4 linked regions of the Homo sapiens genome follow. The protein of the gene in region 1 interacts with the protein of each later gene in a biochemical or structural test. Each region holds a gene or a part of one and is shown in the gene's direction. Other genes may lie near its edges. The genes, in order: GPRASP1, OPRK1, OPRL1 and CHRM2.

Region 1 (2,739 bases):
CTTGGTTGCTAAAACAAAGTACCTGTCTGAGGATAGAGAACTGGTTAATACAGACACTGAGAGCTTTCCTAGAAGGAAGGCCCATTACCAAGCAGGATTCCAGCCTTCTTTTAGGTCAAAGGAGGAGACCAATATGGGGTCCTGGTGCTGTCCTAGGCCTACATCCAAACAAGAAGCCTCTCCTAATTCTGATTTCAAATGGGTAGACAAATCTGTGAGTTCCTTGTTCTGGAGTGGAGATGAGGTCACTGCAAAATTTCATCCTGGGAATAGGGTAAAAGACAGTAACAGATCCATGCACATGGCCAATCAAGAGGCTAATACCATGTCTAGGTCCCAAACTAACCAGGAGCTCTATATTGCATCTAGTTCTGGTTCTGAGGATGAGTCTGTTAAGACACCCTGGTTCTGGGCCAGAGATAAAACCAATACCTGGTCTGGGCCCAGGGAAGATCCCAATAGCAGGTCCAGGTTTAGGTCTAAGAAAGAAGTCTATGTTGAATCAAGTTCTGGATCTGAGCATGAAGACCATTTGGAGTCCTGGTTTGGGGCTGGAAAGGAGGCCAAATTCAGGTCCAAAATGAGAGCTGGGAAGGAGGCCAATAACAGGGCCAGGCACAGGGCCAAGCGAGAAGCTTGCATTGATTTCATGCCTGGGTCTATAGATGTAATTAAAAAAGAGTCCTGTTTCTGGCCTGAAGAAAATGCTAATACCTTTTCAAGGCCCATGATCAAGAAAGAGGCCAGGGCCAGAGCAATGACAAAGGAAGAGGCCAAAACCAAGGCCCGAGCCAGGGCCAAGCAAGAAGCCAGGTCAGAGGAGGAAGCCCTCATTGGGACCTGGTTCTGGGCTACAGACGAGTCCAGCATGGCAGATGAAGCCAGCATAGAGTCCAGTCTACAAGTGGAGGATGAGTCCATAATTGGGAGTTGGTTCTGGACTGAAGAAGAGGCCAGTATGGGGACTGGGGCTAGCAGTAAATCCAGACCAAGGACTGATGGGGAGCGTATTGGTGATTCCTTATTTGGGGCTAGGGAAAAGACCAGTATGAAAACTGGGGCTGAGGCCACCTCTGAATCTATACTAGCAGCTGATGATGAACAGGTCATTATTGGTTCCTGGTTCTGGGCTGGTGAAGAGGTCAACCAAGAGGCTGAGGAAGAGACCATTTTTGGGTCGTGGTTCTGGGTCATTGATGCGGCCAGTGTGGAATCTGGTGTTGGGGTCAGCTGTGAGTCCAGGACAAGGTCTGAGGAAGAAGAGGTCATTGGTCCCTGGTTTTGGTCTGGAGAACAAGTTGATATAGAGGCTGGAATCGGAGAAGAGGCCAGGCCAGGAGCTGAAGAAGAGACAATATTCGGGTCCTGGTTTTGGGCTGAAAACCAGACCTATATGGATTGTAGGGCTGAAACTAGCTGTGACACCATGCAAGGGGCTGAGGAGGAGGAGCCCATTATTGGGTCCTGGTTTTGGACCAGAGTAGAAGCTTGTGTGGAGGGTGATGTCAACAGCAAGTCTAGCCTGGAGGACAAGGAAGAGGCCATGATACCATGTTTTGGAGCCAAAGAAGAGGTCAGTATGAAGCATGGGACTGGTGTCAGATGCAGATTTATGGCAGGGGCTGAGGAGACCAATAATAAGTCTTGCTTCTGGGCAGAAAAAGAACCCTGTATGTATCCTGCCGGTGGAGGAAGTTGGAAGTCTAGGCCAGAGGAGGAAGAGGACATTGTCAATTCGTGGTTCTGGTCCAGAAAATACACAAAGCCAGAGGCCATTATAGGGTCCTGGTTATGGGCTACAGAAGAGAGTAATATAGATGGGACTGGAGAAAAGGCCAAGTTACTGACTGAAGAGGAGACCATAATCAATTCCTGGTTCTGGAAAGAAGATGAAGCCATTTCAGAGGCTACTGACAGAGAAGAGTCCAGGCCAGAAGCTGAGGAGGGGGACATTATTGGTTCTTGGTTCTGGGCTGGAGAAGAGGACAGACTAGAGCCAGCTGCTGAGACTAGAGAAGAAGACAGGCTAGCAGCTGAGAAAGAAGGTATTGTTGGGTCCTGGTTTGGGGCCAGAGAAGAGACCATTAGAAGAGAGGCTGGGTCTTGCAGCAAATCCAGTCCTAAAGCTGAAGAGGAAGAAGTCATTATTGGGTCCTGGTTCTGGGAAGAAGAGGCCAGTCCGGAGGCAGTGGCAGGAGTCGGCTTTGAGTCAAAGCCTGGGACTGAGGAGGAAGAAATCACTGTTGGGTCCTGGTTCTGGCCTGAAGAAGAAGCCAGTATACAGGCTGGATCTCAGGCAGTAGAGGAAATGGAGTCAGAGACTGAAGAGGAAACCATTTTTGGGTCCTGGTTCTGGGATGGAAAAGAAGTCAGTGAAGAAGCAGGACCATGCTGTGTATCCAAGCCAGAGGATGATGAAGAGATGATTGTTGAGTCCTGGTTCTGGTCTAGAGACAAAGCCATTAAGGAAACTGGAACTGTGGCCACCTGTGAGTCCAAGCCAGAAAATGAGGAAGGGGCCATTGTTGGGTCTTGGTTTGAGGCTGAAGATGAGGTAGATAACAGGACTGACAATGGAAGCAACTGTGGGTCCAGGACATTAGCTGATGAAGATGAGGCCATAGTGGGGTCCTGGTTCTGGGCAGGAGATGAGGCCCATTTTGAATCAAATCCTAGCCCCGTGTTCAGGGCCATTTGCAGGTCCACGTGTTCAGTTGAACAGGAGCCTGATCCTTCACG
Region 2 (4,520 bases), on another chromosome or scaffold:
ACTGAAGGAGATGTGATCCTTCAATGACAGTTTGCAATCAGACTTAAAAGAACTCTAAGACTTGATAATAATTTTCAAAATTATTTGAAAGGGTTGAAGGGATATGGTTGAACAAAGGGAAGATTTCCTTATGCTCTTCATATTACACTGCTCAAAAGAGTTGTTCATCTCCAGGCGGCAAGACGCTGGTGGTCAAATCCCACTTTGGGGTCATGGCGTCTTGAAAGAGACAGGAACCCCCTTCTGCCCTCCGCTGATGGAGGGAAGGGCTGTATCAGTCATTAGTGTGTCCAGGTGTGGCATGGACATTAGCTGTGGGATGCAGTGGGGACCTGTGTTTGTCAGCCTGAGGCAGTGAATCCACTGGGGAAATTGAGGTGCCTAAACCCCCAGTCTCCCCCAGGCCTGTCTCCAGTACCCTGTGGAGAAGGGGAACTTCCCCACTCCCTTTCAGAACCTTCACCTCAGGGGCTGAGCCCTTGCTCCCTTTGTGTCTTGCCGGTCCCTTTGCCTGAGAAGAGAATGTCTCTCACTCAGCAGGATCTGACAGCTACCCTTGGACTAGCAGAGTTTTGCAAAGAAATGATGGTGACAGTTTATTTACGGACGCTCAGATTCGCGGCCGTATAATGGAGGCAGCCCTACTGTGAGGGAGAAGTGAGGAGAACGTGATGGCTGCAGGGATTAATGTAAAACAGAGACACTGTCACCTCCCTGGAGCACCACTGAGGCCCGGGTAAGGAGAGTGTTTTGCCCTTCTCAGATACTATCAGCAATTCAGGTAATACCCGTAAGGTGCAGTTTGTCTGCAGCCTGTCATCCCAGTTAGAGCAGACGGAATGGAAGAGAACGCAAGGAAATATTCTATTTATGTGTCTTTTAAGTCATTATTTTATGAACTGGTCTTATTCTAACTGGATCATTTTGTTACTTTCTTTGGATGGGCCATTCTAATAAGCGTAGTTCCTGACTGCGAACTATGCAGATAAGAAGTTCTAGACACAATATGAAAATCCAGGTGCATACTTGCACTAAATAGGCATGCTCCTCCTTTTTACTAAATCTAAATGGCTCAGTCTCAGGTCTTGGGGAAGGCTGCATGGCCGGGGACCAGGCGGTGTGCCGCTCGGGCAGTTAGTGGGCCGGGCGAGCCTGCGGGGCTGGAGGGGACGCGGGGCTGGGAGGCTGGGGAGCTGGGGGCTGACTCCGGGCGGGCGGGGCGGGGCAGGGACCTGCCGGCCTGGGGCGGGCGCACCAGACGAGCTCTCCGCCCGCAGGCCCCCAGCGCCCAGCCGCGTCCCGGCTGCGTCCCGCCGGTCCCGCCCCGCCCCGCCCCGCAGAGCCGCCGCCAGTAGTGGGAGACGTGCGCTGAGAGGCGGGGGCTGCGCTCGGCGGAACAGCAGCCCTCGGGCGGAGAGCGGGGCCGGGGTCCGAGAGCAGGTGATGCCAAGAGCTGAGCGGGACTCGTGAGCGCGCGGTTCAGCACCTACCAGGGCGTCCCGTAAAAAACCTCGCCTTCGCCTGTCTCTGGGAACCATAGGTAAGCTTTGGGCTTTCGAGGTGCAGTTCTAGGTAGAGCTCCGTGCTGGGAGGTGGGAAGGGGGCTTGACCCTGGGGACTCAGGCAGTCTGGGGACAGTTCCACCAGGGGCCGGTGCCTAGAATTGGTGAGGGAGGCACCTCAGGGGCTGGGGGAGAAGGAGCGAGCGCTCTTCGCCCCTCTCTGGCACCCAGCGGCGCGCCTGCTGGCCGGAAAGGCAGCGAGAAGTCCGTTCTCCCTGTCCTGCCCCCGGCGACTTGCGGCCCGGGTGGGAGTCCGCAGGCTCCGGGTCCCCAGCGCCGCTGGCCAGGGCGCGGGCAAAGTTTGCCTCTCCGCGTCCAGCCGGTTCTTTCGCTCCCGCAGCGCCGCAGGTGCCGCCTGTCCTCGCCTTCCTGCTGCAATCGCCCCACCATGGACTCCCCGATCCAGATCTTCCGCGGGGAGCCGGGCCCTACCTGCGCCCCGAGCGCCTGCCTGCCCCCCAACAGCAGCGCCTGGTTTCCCGGCTGGGCCGAGCCCGACAGCAACGGCAGCGCCGGCTCGGAGGACGCGCAGCTGGAGCCCGCGCACATCTCCCCGGCCATCCCGGTCATCATCACGGCGGTCTACTCCGTAGTGTTCGTCGTGGGCTTGGTGGGCAACTCGCTGGTCATGTTCGTGATCATCCGGTGAGCGCGGGGACAGCGCAGCGCTGGGGGCTGGGCGGGGCAGGGAGTGAGGGTCAGGCCCCGCCACTGGAGCAGCAGTGGGGGCAGCCAGCCAGGTGGTGGGGACTCTGTTCCGTGAAGGATCCTGGAAATGCTACAGGGTGGCTTCCTAGAAGAGGTGAAGGATTTTCTGGGAGTTTTTGGTGGAGTGCTGAGAGGTTCACACAGGCGAATCCGAGCGGCCAGGGGCGTCTGGAAGATTTCAGAGTAACCCCCCGACCCCACCCTAGGGCCCAGTGTTTCTGCTGAAAACTCTATGCGCAGGGCAAGGTGCCAGGGTGCTGACAACAGGGTCAGGGGTTCCTGGTAAAGGAACTAATCCATTTGCCTGCGCCAGTTTGGAGCACTTTGTTATGCCCTTTGCAAATATTTCTTAAGATAAATTTCAAGCCCACCCAATGCACTGAAGATAATTCCGAATTTCCTGGGACTCCTCAGACTGGTGTTTTGGCTTATGAAACAAAACCTGATATATGCTCTAGCGTTGTTGATATGCATATATGAGCCTTTTTAGTATCAAATGGCATCCCATTTGTTAGGAATATCAGTAAATAATATTTATCCTCTAAAACATGGCCTGTGGAGATTTTCAAAAACTACTTCGCTGTTTTTTTCACCATGAGAAATTGAAGGTTTTATTTGTGTGTGTGTGTGTGTGTGTGTGTGTGTGTGGAAATTTCTTCAAGTCAACTTCCAATAATAAGTATCCCAATATCCACATATATGCTAATTTTTTGGTAAGCAAAGTGATTCTGACTTTAAGAAAGAAAAACAAGAAAAGGAAAACCTAACTTTGTTCTGCACTTTTCTTAAGATAGATGTGTTTCCTTTTCTGGGAGCACTAGAGCTTTGTCAACACACCTGTGAGAGGGAGTAGGAAGCTTGTGTTCCTTTGAGAAGTCTCTATGAAATAAGGGCGGGATGCAAGTCACCCTGGCTAGGGACTCTGAAACGATGAATAGCTGATTTTTTTTAAGCTTGATTTTAGTTTTGAAACAGGCCATTTATTTATTATGAACTTTAACAACCATATCATGAATGGTAGCATAAATGTTTCTCTTGGAAAATTATCATAATAAAATACTGCTTTATTTTTATTTTTACTTTTTTGCTTGAGAATGTCAGGTCTTTTATTCCTATGTATGCTCTGACATTAAAAACCATCATTTAAGTCGCCAAACACATATTATAAAGCTCATTTCATCAACAACTAGTGTTTATAGCTTGGTGCCCTTGGTTTTCATAATTGCCTATTGCATTTCGCAGGAATTCTATCCATGATGAGTAAAGGTTATAGAAGGAAGGAATATTTTAAAATTAAATTGTTTGTCCAAGTCATTAGTAATCTCAGGGCTGGCCTCCACTAAAGAGACAATTAGACAAAAGAAAAGACAACTGTATTCTAAATTTTAATTAAAAATTTTAGGAGATCTTTGGTACAGAAGCTATTTATTTGGTGGTGGGGTAATAGAAACATTGTTAAGCAAAAGAAAGCTCTAGGAAAAAAAATAGCTCTGTTTCTACCCATATCATATTTAGGTGCTCAAGTAAAACAGATACATATTGTTATTTGAATGAGCCCCTGAAGTCTGCAGTTTGAAAAGAGCTTTGTAGTTGCTCTACAACCTTTTGCAGACTAGGATTAAAAAGAATGAAGAATCCTAAAATAACATTTAGATGTTATGTGCAAATATAACTCCATGGGGAACATTTGACATGTAAGAAGGAAAAAAAAATCCTGTAGATTAGCTAGGATTTTTAATGGATAGATTTCCCAAATATATCCAACACTAAAGTGTGTTATAAGGGGATAAGTTCAGCTAAAAATATAAAAGAAGTTGGATAGTTCACATACATCATTCTCCATTCTCCCACCTCCCAATACTTAAAGGTTACGTTTGATGATGAATGAAAAGCGAAGAGTTCTACTGCCATCCTGGAGTACCAACCTACTGAAATCTATCTAGTTCACTTATGGCTAGAGCACATACATTTTAAGGTCTTCACAAGTAAAAGGTTAATGTCTAGTGAACCTAGTTCACTCAAGTCTATAGCTAAGAAGGAAAAGGAGTATTTAGTATTATTTCATAATGATAGATGGTTCAAGGATTGAAAAATAAAACCTTTGAAGAAGAATTGATGTACTTGGGTTTATTTATCTTAGGAAATGAAGAGACTGAAGATCAGAGAGAGGGTGGCATGAAGTGGGTTGCGTTGTGATCATCAGGCCTGAGTGCAGAACCAGGGTGTGGAGGCCCCATAGCCCTTGTTACT
Region 3 (4,513 bases), on another chromosome or scaffold:
CCACCACCAGCACCTTCATTATCACATTCACCATCCTCACCATCCTCACCACCACCATCACCACCATCATCACCATCATCATCATGACCATCACCACCATCACCACTATCACCACCACCACCATCATTACCATCATCATCACGACCATCACCACCATCATCACCATCACCACTATCACCACCACCACCATCATTACCATCATCATCACGACCATCACCACCATCATCACCATCACCACTATCACCACCACCACCATCATCACCATCACCATCATCACAGTCATCACCATCATCACCATCATCATCATCACCACTACCATCACGCTCACAGTCATCACCATCACCACCATGATCACTGCCATCATCACCACCACCATCACCACCATAATCCCCCCCAACTATTACAACCATTAACTTATTTAACAAAAATTTATTAATCACCAACGATTTTCCCAGCCCTTTCCAGCACCATTTCAGGTGCTTGGATACACTCATACCTTATTAGCATCCCTCCTGTCCCCCCGTCACCATTTTCGGTCTCCATTGCTAGGCAGCAGTGTGGACTTGGAAGCCTTTTGATATGTTCTTACAGATTCTGGAGCCCTCAGAAACCTCTGGCAACTGTAGGGTCAGCATTTGAGTCTGTGAGGGGTCATGGAGGGGACTCAAAAGCAAGGGGAGCAGACTCTTTCCCTTAGGGCTCTAAACCTTTGCTCCTGTGCAGAATCCGGGGTGTGTTCTGGTAGCCTACATGCCCTGACTCCTCTAAAGTAGACCTGTGTTTAAGGCTTGGAATCCTTCTGTGTGTGTCAGAGTCACTTGAGGAGCTGGTTAAGACGTTTGACCCCAGGCCCTACCCCCTGAGACTGACTCATGAGTCTCAGGTTGGGTCCAGGAGCTATCACTTACCAAGCCCCCATGGGAACTCTGATGTTAAGGGACTCAGGGCCACTGTAGCTTGTGGTGGCCAAGAGGAGCCCCTTGCCCTTTGCTGCCTGGTCCAGCCAGCATGGCCAAGTGAAGCCTTTCTTCTCCCTCTACTCCGCAGGCACACCAAAATGAAGACAGCCACCAATATTTACATCTTTAACCTGGCCCTGGCCGACACTCTGGTCCTGCTGACGCTGCCCTTCCAGGGCACGGACATCCTCCTGGGCTTCTGGCCGTTTGGGAATGCGCTGTGCAAGACAGTCATTGCCATTGACTACTACAACATGTTCACCAGCACCTTCACCCTAACTGCCATGAGTGTGGATCGCTATGTAGCCATCTGCCACCCCATCCGTGCCCTCGACGTCCGCACGTCCAGCAAAGCCCAGGCTGTCAATGTGGCCATCTGGGCCCTGGCCTCTGTTGTCGGTGTTCCCGTTGCCATCATGGGCTCGGCACAGGTCGAGGATGAAGGTCAGTGGGGTGTCCCCTCCTCCCCTCACCAGGCTCCCTGGCTCCCGGGTGGCTCCTCTGGGCCCACGTGCCCTCCACGTCTCCTGGGCCCACTCTGACCCCGTTTCTCTCCCTGCAGAGATCGAGTGCCTGGTGGAGATCCCTACCCCTCAGGATTACTGGGGCCCGGTGTTTGCCATCTGCATCTTCCTCTTCTCCTTCATCGTCCCCGTGCTCGTCATCTCTGTCTGCTACAGCCTCATGATCCGGCGGCTCCGTGGAGTCCGCCTGCTCTCGGGCTCCCGAGAGAAGGACCGGAACCTGCGGCGCATCACTCGGCTGGTGCTGGTGGTAGTGGCTGTGTTCGTGGGCTGCTGGACGCCTGTCCAGGTCTTCGTGCTGGCCCAAGGGCTGGGGGTTCAGCCGAGCAGCGAGACTGCCGTGGCCATTCTGCGCTTCTGCACGGCCCTGGGCTACGTCAACAGCTGCCTCAACCCCATCCTCTACGCCTTCCTGGATGAGAACTTCAAGGCCTGCTTCCGCAAGTTCTGCTGTGCATCTGCCCTGCGCCGGGACGTGCAGGTGTCTGACCGCGTGCGCAGCATTGCCAAGGACGTGGCCCTGGCCTGCAAGACCTCTGAGACGGTACCGCGGCCCGCATGACTAGGCGTGGACCTGCCCATGGTGCCTGTCAGCCCGCAGAGCCCATCTACGCCCAACACAGAGCTCACACAGGTCACTGCTCTCTAGGCGGACACACCCTGGGCCCTGAGCATCCAGAGCCTGGGATGGGCTTTTCCCTGTGGGCCAGGGATGCTCGGTCCCAGAGGAGGACCTAGTGACATCATGGGACAGGTCAAAGCATTAGGGCCACCTCCATGGCCCCAGACAGACTAAAGCTGCCCTCCTGGTGCAGGGCCGAGGGGACACAAGGACCTACCTGGAAGCAGCTGACATGCTGGTGGACGGCCGTGACTGGAGCCCGTGCCCCTCCCTCCCCGTGCTTCATGTGACTCTTGGCCTCTCTGCTGCTGCGTTGGCAGAACCCTGGGTGGGCAGGCACCCGGAGGAGGAGCAGCAGCTGTGTCATCCTGTGCCCCCCATGTGCTGTGTGCTGTTTGCATGGCAGGGCTCCAGCTGCCTTCAGCCCTGTGACGTCTCCTCAGGGCAGCTGGACAGGCTTGGCACTGCCCGGGAAGTGCAGCAGGCAGCTTTTCTTTGGGGTGGGACTTGCCCTGAGCTTGGAGCTGCCACCTGGAGGACTTGCCTGTTCCGACTCCACCTGTGCAGCCGGGGCCACCCCAGGAGAAAGTGTCCAGGTGGGGGCTGGCAGTCCCTGGCTGCAGACCCCGAGCTGGCCCTGGGCCAGCCGCACCTCTGAAGGTTTTCTGTGTGCTGCACGGTGCAGGCCTCATCCCTGACTGCAGCTTGACTCTGGGCCCAACCCCCATTTCCCTTCAGGAGACCAGCGAGAGGCCCTGGCCCATTCCCTCCAGCGGTGCAATGAACTATCATGCTGTGGACCGTCAACCCAGCCCTGCTTCTCAGTGTGGGGCAGGTGTCTCAGGACGAAGGCGCCGCGTGACCACATGGGCAGCTCTGTTCACAAAGTGGAGGCCTCGTTTTCCTGGTCTTGACTGCTCTGTTTGGGTGGGAGAAGATTCTCTGGGGGTCCCCACATCCTCCCAAGGCTCCCCTCACAGCCTCTCCTTTGCTTGAAGCCAGAGGTCAGTGGCCGTGCTGTGTTGCGGGGGAAGCTGTGTGGAAGGAGAAGCTGGTGGCCACAGCAGAGTCCTGCTCTGGGGACGCCTGCTTCATTTACAAGCCTCAAGATGGCTCTGTGTAGGGCCTGAGCTTGCTGCCCAACGGGAGGATGGCTTCACAGCAGAGCCAGCATGAGGGGTGGGGCCTGGCAGGGCTTGCTTGAGCCAAACTGCAAAGGCTGTGGTGGCTGTGAGGACACTGCGGGGGTTGGGGGGGGGGCGTCTGTACCTCAGGGGATGCCCCGCTGTGGTCACCCAGAGAATCACCCTTCCTGGTCTACAGATGGAAGCTGCAGGTTGGTGACTTTGCAAATGCACTTCCTACAGATGAACTATTAAAAGACCTGCAACATTGAAAAAACTCATTTTTTCCACCAAAACCTTGGCCAGGTAACCTACCTTAGGCACCTGCAAAGAACAGGAAGTGATGGCTGTCTCGCAACAGAGCCTGGGCTGCTCCTCCTGCTCTGGGGAGTCTAGGCCGTGGGGACTGTTCTGGGGAGGCTCATGCTGTCTCCATGACGTCTGTGGCAGGAGTCCCTGAGGACGGGAGCTGCCTAGCTACAGTTTTCTTGCCAAGGCGAGGTGTTTTGTGAATCTGTGCTGATGTAATGTGCACCTTCACGTATTTATGCATGTGGCAAGCGTTACTTCCTGTGCACGTAGCCAGCCCTGGGTCTGTCTCTGGGGTAATGAAAAAGGACCCTAATAAACACCTGCTCACTGGCTGGGTATTCTTTGTAACCAGTGTTTCTGGCTCCTGCCACCTGGGGATTTGCTTCTGGAGTGACTTTTCTGGGATTGGCACGTGGGTGGGAGGAGGCTATGGGTTTAGGCTGAATTCTTGTACCTGTCCTGTGCTGCTCAACAGGCTGGGCTCTGCCCTCAGTGAAACGTCCCCCAGGAGGCTGCAACCCTGGGGAGAGTTGAAGCCAGTTAATGGTGTGTTGGCCGGGCTGTTACCTTTTCTTCAGCACACACGGTTTCTCTCTAAACAACCGATGGCTGCACCTCTCCCCTGCCCCCTGGAAAGAGAGGTTTCCTGAGGATACAGTGGGAGGGTGCTGCTCCCACCCAGGTTGCAGGGTTTTCTTACCCCCATTTCATCTCAGAAGAACCCCTGCTCCTGCTCATTTCCCCTTCCTTGAGCAGATCTGAGGGGAGTTTTGGTGAAGGATGAGCAGACGGCCTCCTCTAGGGCTGGGTACACTCTTGCCATGGACATCTGCCTCCTGGTTCCTGTTTGGCCCAGTTCAGCCCAGGCCGACCTGCAAAACAGAGCAGCTTTGGAGGGTGGGCACGGGCACACTCCAGTCCAAGTACTCGTCTCCAGGGCATGGGCAGATGGGCAAGTTCTGTAGGATTTTC
Region 4 (3,961 bases), on another chromosome or scaffold:
CTAAGTCCAAAGGCCTCAGAACTAGGGAAGTGGATGGTGTAACTCTTAGAATGAGGCCGAAAGCTTCAGCACCCTAGGGCTCCTGGTGTAAGTCCTGGAGTTCAAAGCCCGGTCTGCCTGGAATTCTGATGTCCAAGACCGCAGAAGAAAAGTCTATCACAGTTTCCAAGACAGATCAAGTCACCTTCTGAAATTGTTCTCACTGGGCTCTGGCCAATTGGATGATGCACTCCAACACTGAGGGCAAAATTCCCCATCTAGTCCATTCACACTCAAACACGAATTGCCTCTGGAAACACCCTCACAGACACATCCGAATTAATATTTTATCAGGTTTCTAGGTATTCCTTAATTCTGCCAAGTTGACACCTAAAATTAAGTTCACAAGTCCACCACTTGTCAGCCTAGTGTTCATATACATCTCCTCAAACTATATGTTATTTCCAAATAAAAGCAGTAACAAGGTGATGGTTCCACCTAACATGATGCAGGCCAATGTGATGAGACCATCCTGCATGCAAGTGAAATGCCAACCCCTTTTCCAGAATTCAGCTTTCAGGATTTCAACATTCAGAATTTTAATCTTTCAGGATTGTAATTTTGGGGATTTTGGACCTTAGCAATTTAGATCCTCATCAAACTAGTTGATTTTGAATCCCTACTTTTCAACATCAGTGTTATTCATTATTCTCCAGAGGAAATTATCAAAAATCTTTTAAAAACTAGAATATAAGTCCTATGCTTTATCAAAATTATGAATAATTAAAATGCAGAGTCAATACATTCATTTTTTGTATTTTTCAAACTAAGTGAATTAATATTAACATTTCATGAAACAGATACACATATAGCTCAACTCCAAACTGTCCATGAATTTATCTAATAAACAGAGAAAATGCTGCTTATAAGCAAGTCACAATTCTGATCTTACAGTTAGCTGAGCTATTAAGAAATTGTTGGAATAAGAACTGGGATAATAAAATGTTTTTGTTCAAATAAATTACCATGAATATACAATTGTATGATTAATTGCAAAAAAGGATTGTCAAAGGGAAATCCGATTAAAATAATTCAACTGATCTAAGTTGCATTCCATTAACATCATTTCCCTGATTAAACTCTTCAATATTTCCCAATGAGCTGCAGGCATACATATGTAATATTACATATAATCACCTTTTTGCTTAAATAAAATTATATTCTGTAATAATCTATGTCTCACTATGATTATGTCATCTTCTAACTATATAACTTTCCACAGCAATGCCAGGACACAAATATCTACCTGTTTTACTAGCCGCATAATATTCCATTGTAAGAGTATTCCATAATATATTTAACCAATCCCTTGTCAATGAATAGTTTTAATATATCTCGGGATTTTTTTGCTATAACAACATTTCTGAGTGAACATACTTGAGTAGACCTCTTTGTACATTTTTATGACTCTATCTGAAAGACACATTCCTAAATGTGGCATTCCTGAGACAAGTGTTTCTTAATACATTTTTATAGATACAGATTTAAAGTTCTATAGATATAGATACATTATCCTTCGTGGTGATTATCCCGCTAGTCCCACCAAAAGTATTCAACACTACCATTAATACTACGGATGGAAAATTGTTTTTCACTGTCTGGATTTGCATCTTTAAACTGTGGGGTTGAGTATCATTTCATATGTTTAAAAGTCATTAATGTCTAATTTTTCTTTGATTGAACTACTACATCAATGTTTTAGATTATTCATCTTTCATCTTTCCTTTTTTGCCAAAACTCTATTATATTAAAGACATTGGATAATTTTCTATCGTGCAATTTACAAATATTGTTTCTCAATTGTTATTTTGACTTTTTTGCTCTATGCAAAAATTTTAAAGGAATATGCAACAGTTACATATATTTTCCTTTCTGGCTTCTGAATTTTGGGTCTTATTATATTAAGGCCAAATCCCATTATTTGGGTTTTGTCAAATAAAATACTGGAAAACAATTGACTTTCCAAAGCAGAAAAAATTATTTTTTTAAATGTTATTTGTGTTATGAAGTTGCTTACCAAATTATTTTCTACATGGATTTCAAGGGCAAACCACTGCCCATTTCTTTGTAATTAATAGCATCCAAACTAATCAATATTCCCAAATTTTAATTTCTCAGCAATGCTTATTTTCTGACAGCTCACAGCAATTTTTTCAAAAAGAGGTGGAACTTGGGCTAGTTTCTGCTTCAGATGCTGTTTCTCCAGAAATGTGTCATATCTCTTTGATGAATTCTTAACTTTCTTTTCTAAATCCCCAATATACATTTTCCATTATGAAAGATCACTCAATTGTCATCAGACTTCAATGATATTATCTCAAAAATGATGATTATGTGTTTACTTACACACAACAGGATAGGGAAACAAGAAGTGCATTCAGGTTTAATAATTGCTTCTTCATCAACCCATGTCTGCCACCAGGCAGAGACCTTGTTTTAATCATCATTGAACGTCCAGAACACCTAATTAAGAGAAGCTGCTCAATAGATATGTGAGCACAAAGTGAAAGAATGAATGACTGAACAAACTGGGATTTCATCTTTCTGAGCCTTAGTTCCTTCTACAAAACAAAAAGTTTGGCAGAAAGAATAGTAAGATAATAGATTTGATAGTGGTTTGAAAAACAAAACATTCAGAAAAGTGGTATTTTCTCCCATAATTTTGTCTTCTTATTGATGTATTAATTTGTATGTCTATTCCAGAAATCTCTTTATGCTTTGGAAAGTCTTATGCATAATTTTGGCTTTTTCAGTTCAATATGCATTTAATAAGCAAATATTCTTGTGTAAGATATGGAATATTGGAAATGCTGATTATGTAATACTGATTACAAGTATGAAATAAAATAGAGGCAAGAGGAAAATAATTCTCATCTAGGGAGAGTATACTGGCTATTAAGTATTATTATATTATCTTTATTTTCACCATCCTCAGTGTTATTGTGAAAAAGGCTTAGAGCTTCCATGAGGAAAGGCACTGTTAACTATAAAAGTCACACATTCAATATTATACATTCTATGCTTTCTTCTATAATTGTGTCCTCTCACTAATTTACTAATTTTTATGTCTATTCCAGGAATCCCTTGATGTTTTAGAAAGTGTTGTTTGTAATTTTGGTTTATTTAATTCAATTTATCAGTATTATGCTAAGTTTCATGGATTGATGAGATATATAGGTAGATAGGTAGGTAGATAGATACTCATATCTGGATAAGGACATATTTAAAACATTACTGGACTTCAAGTTCATTGCCAGCCTGAAAGGTCCTTTTGAATCCTCCATTTGAAGGTCTTGCTTTTTACATGGGGAATTGAGGCAGGTAGACACAGTAATCATGCAGGGGAAGGGAGATTTGGGAGAAAATAATGTGGTTTAAAAGGAGAAACAACATTATGTATTTTAAACCAATGTTTATATTATGTTTGTTAATTTTATTCTATTTCCTTGCAGGTTTAAATGTTTATTTGCTACTTGGCTACTGATTAGAGAACGCAAAATGAATAACTCAACAAACTCCTCTAACAATAGCCTGGCTCTTACAAGTCCTTATAAGACATTTGAAGTGGTGTTTATTGTCCTGGTGGCTGGATCCCTCAGTTTGGTGACCATTATCGGGAACATCCTAGTCATGGTTTCCATTAAAGTCAACCGCCACCTCCAGACCGTCAACAATTACTTTTTATTCAGCTTGGCCTGTGCTGACCTTATCATAGGTGTTTTCTCCATGAACTTGTACACCCTCTACACTGTGATTGGTTACTGGCCTTTGGGACCTGTGGTGTGTGACCTTTGGCTAGCCCTGGACTATGTGGTCAGCAATGCCTCAGTTATGAATCTGCTCATCATCAGCTTTGACAGGTACTTCTGTGTCACAAAACCTCTGACCTACCCAGTCAAGCGGACCACAAAAATGGCAGGTA

What was found.
Region 2: the proteins of GPRASP1 (region 1) and OPRK1 form a complex in vitro, tested with the Homo sapiens proteins (one study listed by BioGRID and IntAct).
Region 3: the proteins of GPRASP1 (region 1) and OPRL1 form a complex in vitro, tested with the Homo sapiens proteins (one study listed by BioGRID and IntAct).
Region 4: the proteins of GPRASP1 (region 1) and CHRM2 form a complex in vitro, tested with the Homo sapiens proteins (one study listed by BioGRID and IntAct).

Annotation. Positions count from the first base shown.
Region 1 is NC_000023.11:102,654,294-102,657,032, forward strand, and holds part of GPRASP1 (G-protein coupled receptor-associated sorting protein 1), read left to right. Parts: coding exon 1-2,739. UniProt on the Homo sapiens protein: Modulates lysosomal sorting and functional down-regulation of a variety of G-protein coupled receptors. Targets receptors for degradation in lysosomes via its interaction with BECN2.
Region 2 is NC_000008.11:53,248,468-53,252,987, reverse strand, and holds the start of OPRK1 (kappa-type opioid receptor), read left to right. Parts: upstream 1-1,350; 5' UTR 1,351-1,540; intron 1,541-1,902; 5' UTR 1,903-1,950; coding exon 1,951-2,207; intron 2,208-4,520. UniProt on the Homo sapiens protein: G-protein coupled opioid receptor that functions as a receptor for endogenous alpha-neoendorphins and dynorphins, but has low affinity for beta-endorphins.
Region 3 is NC_000020.11:64,096,755-64,101,267, forward strand, and holds the end of OPRL1 (nociceptin receptor), read left to right. Parts: intron 1-1,047; coding exon 1,048-1,403; intron 1,404-1,521; coding exon 1,522-2,045; coding exon of another isoform or gene 2,046-2,132; 3' UTR 2,133-3,879; downstream 3,880-4,513.
Region 4 is NC_000007.14:137,011,329-137,015,289, forward strand, and holds part of CHRM2 (muscarinic acetylcholine receptor M2), read left to right. Parts: intron 1-3,491; 5' UTR 3,492-3,537; coding exon 3,538-3,961. UniProt on the Homo sapiens protein: The muscarinic acetylcholine receptor mediates various cellular responses, including inhibition of adenylate cyclase, breakdown of phosphoinositides and modulation of potassium channels through the action of G proteins.